Homo sapiens: one gene and its partner. The protein of the gene in region 2 purifies or fractionates together with the protein of the main gene of each other region. This does not show direct contact. Each region holds a gene or a part of one and is shown on either strand. Other genes may lie near its edges.

Region 1 (3,824 bases), on a different chromosome or scaffold from region 2:
AGCTACAGAAGTGGGTCCCTCCCCTCTTCTCTCCTCACCCCTCACCCTTCTGACCACCCAGAGCCCCCGGGGTTAAAGCTTTCCTGGGGCTCCTCCAGGACCCAGTCCCAGCAGACCCTGCAGCTTAGGGTATCAGCTCTCATCTGTTTTTCTTGCTATTTTCTCCCTGGTGGGAAAGGGCTGGACCCAAGACCTTGGCTGAGGTGGGGCAGGCTCTCACAGGAAGGGCTGCCTCCCAAGGCCAGGAGAGAAGCTCACCTATCCTTACACGTGGGAAAGGAAACAGAGGCTGCAAGTCCTGGGGCACGCATGGGGTAAGGGTGTGTGGAAGGTGCCTCTGACTCTTGGGAATGCCCCTCCCAAGTCCACAGCATCCCCGAGGGCTGTGCTGGGAGCTAAGCAGGGAGATGCTGCTCTCAGGAGTGTGCAGCTCAGGCAGGCACAAATGGGAGAGCAACAGAACAGAGACGGGAGAACACCAAGAGGGGCCCCGTCCACAGGCCAGCAGGGCAGACAGTACCTTAAAGATAGCCCTGAGGGGGCCGGGCGCGGTGGCTTACGCCTGTAATCCTGGCACTTTGGCAGGCCGAGGCGGGTGGATCACCTGAGGTCGGGAGTTCAAGACCAGCCTGGCCAACATGGTGAAACCCCATCTCTACTAAAAAAAAATACAAAATTAGTCAGGCGTGGTGGTGCATGCTTGTAATCCCAGCTACTTGGGAGGCTGAGGTAGGAGAATTGCTTGAACCCAGGAGGCGGAGGTTGTGGTGAGCCAAGATCGCGCCATTGCACACCAGCCTAGGCAACAAGAGCGAAAATCTGTCTCAAAAAAAAAAAAAAAATAGCCCTGAGGGAACCAGGGAGAGCCCCACCTCCAGAATCTCCTTCAAAGTGCATAAAATCCCACAAGGAATGAGACGTTCCTTTGGGTTAAGAGTTGCCTTCTCTGTGGGCTATTTATTTATTTAGTTTATTGAGACAGGGGCCCCCCTGTGTTGTCCAGGCTGGTCTCGAGCACCTGTGCTCAAGCAATTCTCCCACTTCGACCTCCTGAAGTTCTGGAATTACAGGTATGAGCCACCACGCCCACCTGTGTGTTATTTTTAAAAGCTGAAATAACATGAACTCCATAGTATGAATTAGTTTATTAGTCGGAACTTCTCATTGATGATGATAACATGAAAAGACTGAGTCCCCGGAGCAATGGGCTACAGAGACCCTGAGAGGGAAAGGGATCACTTGAGGAGAGAAATGGAAGAGGGTTCCCATTGAACCTCTCAGTGTTGGCAAGAGCCGGTGGCTGAACAGAAAAGGATTTCATATCATAGCTGCTGCAAGAGTGTCAGTATGGTTTAGAGGTGGAAATGAGGGAATGAAGTCTGCAAATCCTGTGTCCAAATAGGGCAGGGCAGAGAAAGCCATTGGTTCTTCCCTGGACACCCTGGCAGGGCTGCCATAGGAGGGGTGGGAGATTCTGGGGGCTAAGTGAGGAAGGAGCTTGAAAATAATAGTTATCTGATCAATAATAACAACAATAAAAATGCTGGTAAGCGCTAACATTTATTTCTATGTGCTGGGCACTGACTATTTATTTATTTATTTAAGAGATAGGCTCTCACTCTGTCTCCTAGGCTGGAGTGCAGTGGCACAATCACAGTTAACTGTGACCTCGAACTCCTGGGCTCAAGAGATCCTTCCACCTCAGCCTCCTGAGTAGCTGGGACAAGTGTGTGCCACCATGCCCAGCTATTTTTAAGTGTTTTTGTAGAGATGGGGGTCTCACTATGTTGACCAGGCTGATCTCAAACTCCAGGGCTCAAGTGATCCTCCTGCTTTGGCCTCCCAAAGTGCTGGGATTACAGGCGTGCACCACTGCGCCCAGCCCTAGGCACTGACTTTATAGACATGGTTTTATTGATACTTCAGCGCAACCCTATCACTTAGATACTACAGGTTGAGCATCCCTAATGTGAAAATCCAAAAGCCCAAATGCTCCAAAATTCAACACTACTTGAATGCCAACAAGACGCTCAAAGAAAAATGTTCATTTGAGCATTTCAGATTTCCAGATTAGGGATGCTCAACCAGCGGGTATAATGCAAATATTCCAAAATCTGAAAAAATCCAAAATTGGAAACACTTCTGGTCCCACACATTTTGGATAAGGGATACTCAACCTGTGTCATTATTCTCAATTCCTAATTGCAGTAACTGAGACTTGGAGAGATTAGAAAACATGTCCAAGGCCACTCTGCCAGGAAAAAGCAGGAAAAGAATTTCTAAGACTCCAGTATGTCCAAGTGCAAAGCCCATATTGGACCCAGCTCTGCCACTCTGGGAGATGGAGAACACGTGAGGATTGGGGGATGGAAGCTTGGAGCAGGAGAAAGGAGCCATGGCTAGGGCCCAGAAGGCAAGCCTCTCCTGCTCCAGGCAAATCTCCCTGGACTAAGTAGTTGTGAGGATGCCATTGTGCTTTGCCTGGGAGCCTCACTCCTCCTGCAAAGTCTGAGCTCTTTCTGAGCCATCAGAATGACCTGTTCACATGCATGTGCTGCCTAGGTATTTAGTTGCTGTCTTGTTCTTGCTGGGGGCAATCAGGCAGTTGAGACTCACCCTTTCATTTATTAAAGGGGTATTCATTGAGCACCTATCAGGTGCCAGGTTCTAGGTGTTAGGGTTCAGGAATATAGAAGAGAACAGACTCATGAAAATATCATTCTGCAGACAGAGAAACAGGCAATAGATATGCAAACAAATAAACCAGATCATTTTAGAGAGTGAAAAGACCTACCAAGCGAAATAAGAGGATACCCCAGGAGAGAGTGAGTGGGCAGGGCAGCCTCTCTGAGGATGAGAAAATGAGCCGAGAGCCAAAGGACCACCAACGAGCCAGCCAGGGAAAGATCTGGGACAGAGCCTTCTAGGCAGAAGGCACCATCGGGGAGAGGTGCTGAGGCAAGAGTGGCAAGAGAGGGCTAGTGTGAAGGAGCCTCAGGGGTGAAGGCCCGAGAGAGGCCGGCTCAGTCAGAGAAGAGACCTAGGGCTGAGAGGGCTGCAGCAAGTGTTCTGGGGTTTATCCTAAGTACGAGGGGAAGTCATTTTAAGCAAAGGAATAATATAATCGAATTGCTGTTTTTAAAAGATAGCTCAGGCTGCTGTGTGGAGAATGTGTTGCAGCAGGGAATGATGGAAGGCAAGAAAACCAGCAGGAGGCTATTTTAGCCATCCAGGCAGATGAGGGTGGGATGCTGTAGCTGGCGGCATGGGAATTGAGGAGAAGCATATGGCTTTGAGATGTATTTAGGAACAGGGCCAAAAGGACCTGCTGCTGAGTTTGGATGTTGCTATGGTTTGAATGTGTCCCCCAAAGCTCATGTGTTGGAAACTTAATCCCCAATGCAACAATGTTGAAAGGTGGGACTTTAAGAGGTAATTAGATCCTGAGAGCTCTGCCCTCTTGAATGGATTAATGCCATTAATTGCAGAAGTGGCTTCATTATCACAGGAGTGGAGTCTTTATAAAAGATGAGTTTGGCCACCTTCTTTTCTCTCTCTAGGGAGTGTGCTCTTTGTCCTTCCACCCTTCAGCCATAGGATGAGCCAGAAAAAAAGGCCCTTGTCAGATGCAGACCCTCAATCTTGGACTTCTCAGCTTCCAGAAATGTGAGCTGAGTAAACTTCTTTTCTTTATAAATTACCCAGTTTCAGGCATTCTGTTATAGCAGCACAAAATGGACTAAGACAGAAGATTGGTACCAGAAGTGGGGTTGTTGCTCTAACAAATACCTGAAAATGTGGAAGCAGCTTTAGAACTGGGTAAC
Region 2 (3,824 bases):
TCCAAATAAAGCAATTGCTCCATTTCAACCATTTTTTACACGTGTGTTTGATGTGTTTGTTGTGTTTCAACTAAAAAAGCAGGAGAATAAAATTTTCTTGGATCAAGTTTTAGCTAAAGGGCTGGGGGTGGTGTTTCTCTGCAGTGAGGAGTGATAGAAAGTTGGCCTAATGAGTGAGAAGATCACAGAGTTGCGAGAAGCAATAGATAAAACAGCACACAGTAGTAAGGGACAAGCAATTGAAATGCAAGAACTGTAAAAAAAAAAAGATGTAGTCAGAATCCAGTAAAAAGGGCTAGCAAATATATAAATAAATATGGTACACCTAGTATGTCTAGTCAAAGACTCCTAACAAGGCAGAATGTGAACTTACAGTAAAGGCTTTCCAAGATGAGGAAACCAGGGTGGAGGCTCAGGATAATGCCAACACTAGGCAAAGGACTAAAGTCAGGAGGCTCTCACTCACCCTGAAAGAATAGTGTGTCTTTAGTGGAGCTAAGGTACCGCCAAGGGACCTACTAGTGAGACCCAGTGATGACTCACCAGGCAAGCAGGCATTTTGTGATTAGACAAATAAGACAACCTAAATGGGTTGTTGTTCCAATTTTACAGATGAATTGTTCAGATACAGGCTGATTGAAGAGCATCAACCCTTACCAAACTAGGTAAAATTTACTGATTCTAGACTATCAAAGGGAAATCAGGGGTCACATAATGAGGCTACATGCTCTCTCTACTAGCTATCAAGCTTTTTGATGTAGTTATTAAAAAGTTATCATACCAAAACACTGTGCTAGGCATGAAGGAAAATAAACAACTGTATAAAACTTGGTTCCTACAGTTGAGGAGGTTACAATTCAATACCTATATATGTATATGATAATATGGTTCAGTAGTAAGTTTGAATATTGACTCCACCACTTATTAAACTTAGGAATTTGGAGTAATTATTGAACTTCTCTGCTTTTCAAGTCAACCTTTCAGGGCTGTTTTTGGAACTAGAGACAACATATATTAATAGCCTAGTACCTACCAAACCCTCAATAAATGGTAGCTATTTTTTGTGCTCATACACATAAATTATTCTCAGTTTTACTTTCTTCAGATAAAAAAAAATTTAAGAATTAGAACAGATCCATCAGTTAACTATTAGAATTTTAATAATTATAACTTAGAATTTTAGAGAAATAGCACTCATTCCAAGTTGACTTCTACATAAATATAGTTCTATAGATAAAGCCTGGTGTGCAAAGAGAATGACATTGTAAAGTCCCATGTTAAGATAAAGAAATGAGCTGGAAAAGAGGTTAAATGAGTTATCCGTTAATGAATTATCATAGGAAATATTTAAAACTAAGCATGAAATAAAAGAATGCAAAGAAATAAAGAATAACTAGAAATGTAAAATAATTTTCTCATGGGAGATACTTTAGCTGATTTTCCCAAAGAAGGTGACTCTAAACCGTGAAATAAATCTCTGAAAGAGAGAGCAAGTTAAAAGGAAACTAAGATTAATGCCAATATCTCTTAAACAAAACAATCATGGTAAATCTAGAACTCTTATCTCATGTTTTGTTTTGTTTTTCCATTACCCCACAAACTTACTAATTAACAGCACAGATTCTGATGTTGCAGTCCCTAACTTCAAATCCCAGCACTGGCACTGCAGCACTTTTTGACAAGTTACTGTACTCCGTACATTGAAAGGGGAATAATATTAGTACCTATCTTATCACATTGTTGTGACAATTAAATGAGTTATGTGCAAAGTTCTTAGAACAGTGCTTATATATAGTAAGTCCTAAACAGGTATTATCAGACGCAGGTACATCATCAGCATCACAATCATTATTACAATTATTATTATAGTGAGCATAATTCTGAGAAGCATCTTAAATAAAGCTTTCATAGAGACAAGAAGAAATGATTCTTTTGCACAATGATTAACTTGATTGTGATTAGTTAATTTGCTTGGTAAGAATACTATGCCAATTTATTCAAAGTCAAAGGTTTGATTCTCCCCTGGGTCTGCTGGCTATATTTCATAACAACAGATTTATCCTAATACTGACCAGCTTATTCTATGAATTCTGGTTTTAACGAAGTGGCTGGTGAAGAAATTGATCAGCCCAAATTAATGAATAATATTAGATAAGTCTATAAATACATCCCTACTGATCTTAGATTAGTCATATTGTCTTAATATATTATAAATTCTAGGACTGGAAAAATGTTTAAAGATGATGTGGAGCCAAATATTTTATTTTAATAGAAAAAAATAGGCTCCAAGACAAAAAGCTACTAAGTAAATAAGATCATATAATTGCTTCATGGCATAGCTAGAACTCTTAGTCCACGTTTTGTTTTGTTTTGTTTTGTTTTTTCATTACCACCACATTTTTTCAATATATAATATTTTTATTCTCTATGAGAACTTCCTTTTTTAAAAGTCCATTTTTCTATCAGTATAGTTCATTATTCCATTCTCAGCAGCTCATTCCAAGTGGTCAAATATGGAGCTTTGAAGGCCTTTGTAATGACTTTGTTATGAAATAAATAGGGGGTCATTTTAAGGCATTAGGCATGTGAGGTGATGAGTGACACTACTTGACTTAATTTCTTAGAAGATCACTTTGCCTTCTATGTTAAGACTAGATGGCCAAGAGGTCCGATTCTGAGGTTATCACAATAAGCCAAGGGAAAATGATCGTGGCTTGGACCAGGATGATAGCAGAGGAAGTGGTGACAAGTTGTCCACATCTGAATATGTTTTGATGGTAGTGTCAAGACGAGTTCCAGACACATTGCATGTGAAGTGTGAGAGAAAGTAACAGACATGGAGACGAGGGCATGTAGGTCTTCATTTAAAAAGTCCTAATTTTTTTTTAACCAAATCTCTCCTGCTGCTATCTACACCATGATTTACTATATGAAAAGAAGTTCATGACCACCTACACAATGCCCTTCTTGTGACTCTGGCAGTAGCCAGAATCATACCGTGTGTTACGAAAGAAACCAAACAATGGCTTCTGATCTCAAAAAACTTCAACATTTGGTAGATAAAATCCCTTAGAAAGGGAGGGAGATATATTTGACAGCATTACTAATGTAGCTAGAAGTTGTAGCTTGAGGTTAAACTGTAGCTATTCTGGACATGTCTGCTGACATGAGGGAACCAAGCCCACATGTCCATTGACATGAGTGACAGAGCAGCATTTAGGATAGAATCCATCCCCGATAAAGAGAGGGAATCAGCCACCTGAAGGGAAGGCTACTTCTAAGGATGGCATCGTCTCACTACTTGGCTCTGTCCCCAGCTCAGCTCCTTATGAACTCATATCTGAATGTCATGGAAGGGAGAGAAAATTGTGAGCCAAAAAATTTTAAAGGCTGCTTTCATTAAAATTCTCTAAGATTCGAGATTAAACGCCAACACCATTTTGATAGACACTCGTGGAAAGTAGCCCAGAAGAACAGAGAGACACTTTCCTTCACTTGGCAAAGAGTATGGTATAGCTTTGTCATCTCAATGATTCCATGCATCAGTGACCGTAACTATTAGCACAGAAAGCAGTGTCCTCAGAAGCTCAGGTGTTCATTGAGACAATAGCTCCCTCGGATATGTGGAATCCAGTAGAGGTGGGGCAGGTAAGAGGAATAAAAGAGGTAGACATCACATGTAGCTGACCTGTTCATAGACAAGCACATAAACAAACACATGTGCGACTCTCAGAAATACTTGTATGAGTTCAATTGCATTATTAGGAGGTAAAATAAAAGAGCTAGAAAGACTTAAGTTGCCATTATCATTCTTGTCCAGCTCA

What was found.
Region 1: the proteins of GRM1 (region 2) and ADORA1 purify together in Homo sapiens (affinity purification with western blotting, with the first as the bait; one study listed by BioGRID). This does not show direct contact.

The regions. Positions count from the first base shown.
Region 1 is NC_000001.11:203,158,591-203,162,414, reverse strand, and holds part of ADORA1 (adenosine receptor A1), read right to left. Parts: intron 1-3,824. UniProt on the Homo sapiens protein: Receptor for adenosine. The activity of this receptor is mediated by G proteins which inhibit adenylyl cyclase.
Region 2 is NC_000006.12:146,161,375-146,165,198, reverse strand, and holds part of GRM1 (metabotropic glutamate receptor 1 isoform alpha precursor), read right to left. Parts: intron 1-3,824. UniProt on the Homo sapiens protein: G-protein coupled receptor for glutamate. Ligand binding causes a conformation change that triggers signaling via guanine nucleotide-binding proteins (G proteins) and modulates the activity of down-stream effectors.